3 separate regions of the Homo sapiens genome follow, and all the other regions are reported to be linked to region 1. Evidence: microRNA targets listed by miRTarBase, many of them from high-throughput screens and not tested one by one. Region 1 holds a microRNA gene; each other region holds the end of a gene's coding sequence.
What was found. The annotated mature microRNA hsa-miR-4676-5p reads GAGCCAGUGGUGAGACAGUGA and lies in region 1 at 1,881-1,901, shown strand. An mRNA with a match to its seed (bases 2 to 7 or 8) in the 3' UTR can be bound and repressed. Matches are read on the target gene's strand: a 7mer-m8 pairs with bases 2 to 8, a 7mer-A1 pairs with bases 2 to 7 and ends in A, and an 8mer does both.

Region 1 (3,000 bases):
TTCTGGAAAACACACAGCATTTCACTGTTAACATTTAAAGGATATGTAGAGAACCAGTTGAGCAAATGAACCTTTTATCTTAGAATATATGCTGTCAGAATTATAGGATTATCAAGGTACCATTATGTTACTGGAGCTGTTACAGTCTTAGTCTTATTTGTATTATAAGAAGAATAAAGTAGCTGATGTTAATAATCTGTTGTTATTGTAACCAGGTTTTTGAGATGCCCCAAAGAAGGACATCTTTTCCTTTTGGTCTGTTTTGATTCACCAAGTCAAAACGTTCAGGTATTCTTTTAGTACAGTAAAGAATGATCGGTCAAATAGTTGTGCATTTGGAATATTCATGTGTTTACGAGTGCTGGTATGTGTTCCTTCCCACTGATTGTTACATCAGCAAGTGAGCTGTAGTCTTGGTTGTGTGTGTATTTTACATGTTCTTTTGGCTTTAAGGTATCACTTAACATAACCAGAATGTAGAATTTTCTTCCCAAACAGAGCTCTTTTTGTGATTTTTCTTATTGTCACTTTTGGTTTTTCCAGTGACTTGAGGATAAATCACCTCAGGCATTTATCCTTTATATTACAAACATACAATTATATTCTCTTAGTTATTTTAAAATATACAATTAAATTATTATTGGCTATAGTCACCCTGTTGTGCTATACAATTCTAGGTCTTATTCATTCTTTTAATTATTTTGTGCCCATTAACCATTGCCACTTCCCAATCATTTTTATTGATTGATTAGTTGATTGATTGAGATGGGAGTCTTGCCGTGTGGCACAGGCTGGTCTTGAGCTCCTGGCCTCAAGTGACCCTCCCACTTCAGCCTCCTGAGTAACTGGGACTGATTACAGGTGCAAAATACTACGCCCATCTAATTAAATTTTTTTTTTTGGAGAGACAAGGTCTCACTAGGTTGCCCAGCTGGTCTTGCACTCCTAGCCTCAAGCAATCCTTCCACTATGGCCTGGGATTACAGGCATGAGTCACTGTGCCTGGCCAATAATGTTTCTGATAACCAGTGACTGCTTACTAACTTTCAGGTTGTGTGACATGCCATACATACATGATTTTATTTCATTTATTCTGTGCACCAGTCCTATAAAGTAGGTACTATAATTTCTACTGCTGAAGAAATAAAGACAGGAAGGTTCTATGTAACTTGCTCAAGCTAGTAAGTGATGGAATTAGGAATTCAGGTATATGTCTGCATACTTCCCAGTTGTAACCTCTGTCTCCCCATGCTCCTGAATGCCATGAATAGATTACTCCTTAATCACCAAGTGCATTCCCACCTTTTTCTTAGCCCTTTCACTTTGCAGATCCACTGACTATTAGGCCCTGACTTGTTCCGTTTGTTCCTTTCTCATCATCTCACTCTATCCATCCTTCAAGGCACAGCTCAAGTCCTATCTGTTCAGTGACTTCTTCCTTCTCCTTTCCAATTTATAGAATACTCCTTAGCCCTGCCACACATTTTATACTTCCATTGTGTTGAATCTATCTTTTTATATACGGATGCTTTAGTTTAAACTTCAGATTGTAACCTCCTTGAGGAAAGGGCTTGGATTACAGATTTTACTTGTATTCTCTGCAGTGTCTTATAATAGATGTTCAACAAATGTATATGTTGATCAATTGAAATGATAATAGAACCCTTAATAGCTGAAGATATGTAACGTGCATCTAAGACTCCTGGTTATTTGAGCTTCTTGAAGTACTTTATACATCCAACTAACAGTCTTAATTCAGAACCAGGAATGACATGTTTAGGTTAGAGTTAGATACTGATTTCTAGACAGGAAGCTTAGTAATTGTTGCTACATACTGATCCAAGTAAGAATAGTTCTTTATATCCAGAGCCTGAATGAAAGAGCCAGTGGTGAGACAGTGAGTTGATTACTTCTCACTGTTTCACCACTGGCTCTTTGGTTCATGCTAACAATGTATCTCACCTAGATTATATTAACAGCTTTCTAATTAGTCTCCCTGCTTTTGTTCTTTCTTACCTCTGGTCGTAATTCAGCAGTGGGAATGATGACATCAGGCAGAAGGAGACTTATTCAGTAGCTTCTGATCTCACTCAGTAAAAGACAAAGTTCTTCAAGGGGCCTACAGGTAGTGACAATAAACTGGCTCTCTGGAGGGGGAAAAGGTTCTGATTTGTAGCATTTGCCTGTTTTACTGGTATAATTACTCCCACTCTGGCTGATTCAAAGTTCTAGAATGTACAGCAATCTGCTCCCCAGTCAATATCGGCTTCAGCACATCACTGTTGAACATTTGGCTCCCCGTCTGACTCCCATCTGCTGCCACTTTCCCTCTTGCCCACTCCATTTTGTGATACTGACCTCCTTGCTATTCCTCAAACATGCTGAACATGCACCTACCTCATAGGATTTTTGCACTGCAGTTTTCTATCATTAGAATGCTTTTCTCCTGAATATATACAGGTTTTCTTATTTCTTTTCCCTCTTGAGTCTCTGCTGAAATATTATATTCTCAGTAAGGTCTTCCATGATCTCCTTGCATGAAAATTTTATTTTATTGGTTGTTCTGAGATGATTTTAATATACACTACAGTGTTTTTGTAGTCATCTAGTGCCTTGCTGTAGTGATGCATTACTGCTATTTCTAGGCAATGTCATCTGTGGGTGGGCATAATGGTTATATTTGCTGTTGAGACTTAAAAAGAAGCATTTCATTTTGTTTGAAACGAAAATATCTGTGATACATATAAACAAATCAGTTTGGGCCTCTTATTGGTAATTGCAACTTGAATTACTATCCACTTAGGCTCCTTATGGGGAATGCAACAATATTTATGGTTAAGTGTACATTTGATAGTATATTGTTCTCACAGTAACATCATTGTGGGTTTGAAGATCTGTGCTAAGTTATGAAACAATGGAATTTATACACTTTATTTGAAGATAAATTGGGTTTATAGGGAATTCTTGGTATAAATATTAACGTGTAGATTAGTATAACAT
Region 2 (3,358 bases), not on the chromosome of region 1:
AGGGAGCATGGGGGTGGGGTGGTCCTGATCATCCATATGGGGAGGGGGATTGGAAAGAGGAGATCAATACCTCAGTTCCTTAAAGTGTTTGGGCTTTCAAAAAGCTCCTCACTAACCATCCAAGTGATCTCCTCTTCTTTGGGCTAAATGGGTCCCGGTATTTAATTCTTGGAGCACAGCCTCAGAGCACTGAGAGGTGGCTTAGAATAAATTAGTGTCACACGTGGAGAAATATGTCATTGGTGGCTTCTCTCCCAGGTGGGCCAAGGAATGCTGGATATGTGCTAGGCTTTAAACCTAATCCAAATCGAGGTGTGGGTCCATAGGCAACAATAGTTCCTGTTCTGCACCCCCTCAGTAGCCTGTGAGGACTGGACTAGTTTTGTATTTTCTGAAACTTTAGAGAACATCTCTCTATCTTCCTGTTCTAGGATTGATACTGCCAAATGGAAACATTAACTGGAACTGCCCATGCCTTGGGGGAATGGCCAGCGGTCCCTGTGGAGAACAGTTTAAGTCAGCCTTTTCCTGCTTCCACTATAGCACGGAGGAGATCAAGGGGTCAGACTGTGTAGACCAGTTCCGGGCCATGCAGGAATGCATGCAGAAATACCCAGACCTCTATCCCCAAGAGGATGAGGATGAGGAAGAGGAAAGAGAGAAGAAGCCAGCAGAACAAGCAGAAGAAACAGCTCCCATTGAGGCCACTGCAACCAAAGAAGAGGAGGGATCAAGTTAATGAAGGCCACAAGGCACTGGGCACCAGTCCTTTTGGAGTGGACCTTTTGCAAAAGGCCTTGTCATCACCTTCCAAGAAAGTTTCCTTCTGTTGTCCTGTGCATTATAATATACAAAATAACTTATTTTGATGATCAGAGGTCTTGAGGTCTTGACATCTTGACATATACACTGAAAAAAATGGGGGTTGTATGTATGTGTGTCCTACCCAAACCTGTGGCCGCCACTTTTGAATTCTCAGATTGCCCTGAATTTTGCCACTTTTAAATAATGTGCTGAATAAGCTCAGCAACTAAAAACCATTACCCAAGAACGTTTCTTGTGAGTGAGCTGATTTATTCTGATTCATTATATTCCTTTTGGTAGATTTTATACCCCTTGGGGAAATAATACAACAAAAACATCTCTTAAAAATGCTGGGATGGGGCCATATCTACTAGCAGAGGCCAGATGGTCAGATATGATTTCTGCAAACCCATCTTGACCTTGAGTATGTGAAGGGGTACTGTACTTTATTCCTGATACATTTTGGTTTCCATGTAGGTGTTGAGCTCCTGGTTTTCTGTGTTTGGATGATGAAGATTTGGACCCTTCCATTCATAATCCCTTTCTAAGTGAAGGGAGAGGCTGGCTTGGCTGTTCCTTGTTATTCCGAAAGCCCTGGTTTGGGGCCCATGTTCACACTGGCTCTCAGTCTAGTCAGGTGCAATGTTCTTGAGAGGTGGGGACCTAATTATTACCAGAGTAGCAGCAAGAGAGGAAACGTTGTGAATTAAGTATTCAATTAAAAGGAAACATGATTTCTACCTGATTTTGAATGTGTCCTTTGTTTTCACTAGTTAAAAATGTTTTCTATATAAAAAAGTATAAATTATGAACAATTCAATTGAAATTCCTCTTGAAAGATATTGGTAAACCAATTTGAGTCCGTTAAAATTTTCTGTGTTGAGTTCAAAGGAAGCTTACTTATTTTATATGTGAGCAGATGCCTTCACACAGACATTACAGTTAGTCTATGAGGTGGGGAAGGCTCTTCCTGTTTGAAAATAGATTAACTTGCCTAAGGTAACTGCTAGACAGTTTTCAGGCTGTGGCATAGTAATGCCTCATTTGTCTCAAATGTGTTAAGTTATTTATGTAAAAAATTGCCTTAAAACTTAATAGCTTGAAACGAGGAATCTGGGCATGGCTTACCTGGGTTCTCTGGCTCAGTGTCTCATGAGGCTATGATACTTGTAGTCATCTCAAGGTGGGACAGGCCTTTCAAGATCGCTCGAAGTGGTTTCTGGGAGGGTTCAGTGGGTTGAATCTTGTGGGCTGTGGATTGAGGGCCTCAGTGCCTTACTGGCTGTTGGCCAGACACCTCCTTCAGTTCCTTGCCACATGGCCTTTGCCTTAAAGGGTCAGCTCACAACATGGGAGGTGGCTTCCATCAGAGCAAGCGAGAGAGCAAGATGGATGCCAGAGCCTTTTCATCACCTAATCTCAAAACGGACATTCCATAACTTTACCATAGTCTATTTGTTTGTTAGAAGTGAGACACAGCCCACACTCAAGGAGAGGGACACAAGAATACGAGTAACAGGAAGCTGCCTGCCACACTGGAGAATGAGGCGCCACCATGTTAAAGCTTGAAGGCATGGTTAAAATGCAAGGATTTGTGGTTGGGAGGTGTATGGAGGTAGAGAACTGCTTTCTATATCCAGAGCTTTTTTAAACCTTGCTTGATTAGGAGCTAAGAACCTGGAGCTGGCCAAGCATGGAAGGCATGACAGACCCTAACGACTTCTTTTAACAGAGTTTTGCACATTTAAAAACGATATTTCTTTTGTTAAAATTTTGGTCACAATCAAGGTGTTACTGTTTTGTGACCATGTCATGTACCCCATTTATTTGATGCATTCATGGAATCTACAGTTCCAAGCCCTAGGGACATAGAGTGATTCATTCATGGTACTGCCCATGAAGCTACAATCTAGCCAGGAAGTCAACATTTACTAGAAAGCAGAAAGGAATGGATGAGTGTTACATAATGGTGCTGGATTTTCAGGGCTGGGTTCTTCCAGCCATGGTAACTTACAGCAGAGATTCTCGAACTGTCTGCCCAACTCGACTTGGGTTAGGCAAAAGGTTCCATCCTTTTCCACTTATCACTGGAAAAACAAATTGGTGATAAGGAATTGGCACCGTATAAGCAATTGGAAGTGGGTGGAGATTATGCTTTACTACAAGGGGTTTGGATAATTCATATTTAAGTTGCTGTGTATCTTTAAATGTAAGAACACCAATAGATCAAAGAGTTAATGATTCAGATAAATGCAAGTTGATGATTTTTAAAGAACAGCAATAATTGAAACAAAGGGCTGCTCAAAATAACACTGATTTGGAAATGCAATTACCAACACAATGTTTTATGTCTGTTTTGTTTTGTTGTGTTGTGTTTTAAGAGAGTTTCGCTGTGTTGTCCAGGCTGGAGTGCAGTGGCATAATCATGGCTCACTGCAGGCTCAACCTCCTGGGCTCAAGCGATCCTCCTGCCTTAGCCTACCAAAGCGCTGGAATGCTCAGCCTGTTTTGTATTTTTGTGTTATAGGCAAGTGCAGCATATCAGCCAAGCTTC
Region 3 (3,000 bases), not on the chromosome of region 1:
ATATGATTTTCCAAAATAAAAAAGAATGAGAGAAATGAAATGAAAATGATAACAAAAGGTGGGGTGGAGAGCACTAATATTGGTCTGAAATATTTGTGCTAACGAATGTTGTTACCTGAAAATAACAACACTCCTCTCCAGCAGTTTCAGGGCATGAGAAGCACAATTATTGAAATCAAGACTTTACTCAGAGAATCGACAAGGTGAGTCTAAGGAACTATAAAGCTTTGCAGGATTTCTGCTACTCTCAGTGCCTAACCGCTTAAAAATTAAGCATTTCTACAAAAAGGTTTGTTTTAAAGTATCTGAAAACAGTCATCTCCAGTAAGTTGCCCTCCCACCCCCAACCCTGCCTAAGGGAAAAGCCACTGAGGTTTAGGAAAAGCAGATCAAGTAAGATATTAATCACATAGAAAAAAAGTAATCTTTTGTTTTGCTTTTTTTTTTTTTAAAAAAGGTCCCAGGAATATACAGCAATCTCGTAAGGAACTCTAGTGAAATGTAATCGGAGGACTGAAGGAGGGTGCTCTGGCAAAAATAGATCTATTCTAACGTGTTCTATAGAATAACAAGTTAGTACCATTGTCAAGGTGCATGTTCCGCACCATACAATTTTTGTTGTTGGTTTTTTGTTTTGGATTTTAGCTAATTATAATCTTCAAATCACTGCTAGCGAGTGGTCCAAAACTCCAACAGCCACCAACATCGGGACCCAGCAATTTCAAACATTCACTTTTTGTTTTGAAATTTAGAAAATATTAATAAAACAGCATCATAGTAAAAATATTATGCAAAAGTCTGGAACTGCTCACTTGATTTATTCCTACATGAATGGGGTTAAGTTGTAACGTTTGATTAACCTTTTACTAATGCCTTCTTCCTCCATCCCCACCAGGAATATGCATTTTTGAGCACATCATTCCGATGCTTTGCTACCCTCTTTACCTGCTTTGGAAAAAAAAACAAGAAGAAAAACCTCTATTTTTTTTTCAATCCTGTTAGTATGTTGTACATATTTTCCAGCACCGGAACTGAAGTAATATCTACAACCATGAGAAGCTAAACCTAGTATGAATAGAGTCATTTTTTGTATGGCTATTACGTCAAATTACAATTAGAAAAAAAATCATTACAATTCAGTCAAGTATAAATAAGAAAGCTAGATAAAACCATGTAAACTGTCACCATTTAGAGATCTAATTCAAAAGCTTCAAACTCGAACTAGCACTGTCAAAATTCCGCCAGTTTGAAAACCATTAAAAATTATTGCTGGAATCCAATAATTAAAATTTGGTAGTTTGTGCTGTGACGCAAGAGTGGGGAAATACTTTGTGCTATAGAACAAATACCCTGTAAAATCTGTAGCCTCAGACTAATTTTGATTTATCACTTTGCATCTGTTGCTAGGAAACAAGACACTGTGAATGTCAGGTGGTTAAGTCAATATGTTGAATGTTCTAAGCCAGTTAATCCACTTGGCGCTGCTTATGTATGGTTGGTTTTATGTTCAAAAGCAACAAAACACAAAAAGGAAACAGAGACTTGCAGGTGGATCTATGACTGAGAGTCCCACTCTGGTCAGGCATACCTCCCTCATCATTGACTCAGTACCTCCTAAACAACACAAACTCAAAATGGCTCTAAAAACCTGCAGTGCCAATCAGGCTGTGCATAGCAATTGCAACCCGTCCAGCCAATCTGTGATGGATGTAAAAGGTCTGTAGCTCCAAGTCCACATGAAGTGAGTGTCTTCAATGTGTTTAGAATAGTGAAGTAATACTAAGGTCACTTCTGAATAATATTTTTGTCTTTTTTTTTGTTTGTATGAACAATCCATTGGTCACTTAGACCCCTATGTAAAAATAAAAGAATCCTCAAGGCATGAAAACACCAGTAATCTGTAATCTGCAGGACTCTTCCCCTGTCTGGGAAAATATTTGCCACAATTTGCCTCAAGCAAATTCTTCTTGGTCACTCAAGGCTAAGAAAAAAATTCAGATTGTAAGAGTTGTAATTTTTTCTCTCTCTCTTTTTTTTTTTTTTTTGCCAGCAAACTACCATTCTGGTGGCAAATATAAAAGTGCAGAATATATGGACCACGAGGCCGAGCATACACCACTAACAATGGTACATCTGCCTGCCCAGGCTGCTTGGGAGTCTCTGGAACAGGCTTTTTAATATTTATTCTACAATATAAATGTAGGTATAACCTATTATATAAACCATCTTAAACTTAAATCTCCATGTACAAAAAAGACTAAGAATATCTAATAATAACTAGTGCAGTGCGTCAGTTTTTGTTTTTTTTTTGTTTTGTTTTGAAAGAATAACTAGGTAATATATGAAACTAGTTTCACACTCTCTGGTTGGTAAAAGAGATGCTGGGTGAGCTACAGTAAAGGCAGCCTTTTACCAAGTTACCACCTATTACCGTCAAAAGCCTTCAATAGAAAGCAAAGCTCCAGGATCATTCTGTTTCTGCTCAGTATCAGACAGATAACCTTACCCTCAAAGATTCTGGGTTCTGAGAGAACAAACTGGCCCAGGATGCTAACTTCTGCTTCAAGTGAATCTGGGCCGTGTGGGGCAACAAGCACTTGTTTGCAGTCTATATTTTCCACCACTTGGACTCACTAGCATCCCTCGGTAAAGACAAGGCTAGGGTAGTAGGTAAAGCACAATGTTTTACAATGAAAGGGCGCTTCACTGGTCAGCGCAGGAAATAAGTACAGGAGCCTGCGGCATTTCTTTTGGCTGTCCATCATGGGTGAGCGGAGTTGACCTCTGACCTCTGTAAAATAAAAGGAAGAAAAAGTCACTTATTCAGCATATGTTATTAGAGACAGGAGAGGACGATGAATAACAAGTGTGTTCCAATATCTTGTTTAACAGTTACTGCTGTTACTTACATCATTTAATGAAAACTGTTTTTGCTTTAGAGTTTTTTCTCTTCTGTCCCCTTCCTTATCCTTTTTTTCCCCTTCCTCCTTCCCATTCTGT

Region 2: miRTarBase lists CHCHD4 as a target of hsa-miR-4676-5p. Seed matches in the 3' UTR shown: 7mer-m8 at 1,421-1,427.
Region 3: the mRNA of BBX is a reported target of hsa-miR-4676-5p. Seed matches in the 3' UTR shown: 7mer-m8 at 1,461-1,467.

What each region holds. Positions count from the first base shown.
Region 1 is chr10:72,719,158-72,722,157 of GRCh38, forward strand. It overlaps MIR4676 (microRNA 4676), which reads left to right and starts at 1,872; the gene lies at 1,872-1,943. All of the region lies in intron 1 of MCU (mitochondrial calcium uniporter), which reads left to right.
Region 2 is chr3:14,110,268-14,113,625 of GRCh38, reverse strand. It overlaps CHCHD4 (coiled-coil-helix-coiled-coil-helix domain containing 4), which reads left to right. Exons shown (of 3, transcript NM_001098502.2): 3 at 432-1,549. The coding sequence ends at 739. Among named protein-coding and RNA genes, the nearest start is that of CHCHD4, 13 kb to the left of the region's middle.
Region 3 is chr3:107,805,161-107,808,160 of GRCh38, reverse strand. BBX (BBX high mobility group box domain containing) reads right to left here. Exons shown (of 18, transcript NM_001142568.3): 18 at 1-2,791. The coding sequence ends at 2,704. Among named protein-coding and RNA genes, the nearest start is that of LINC00635, 71 kb to the left of the region's middle.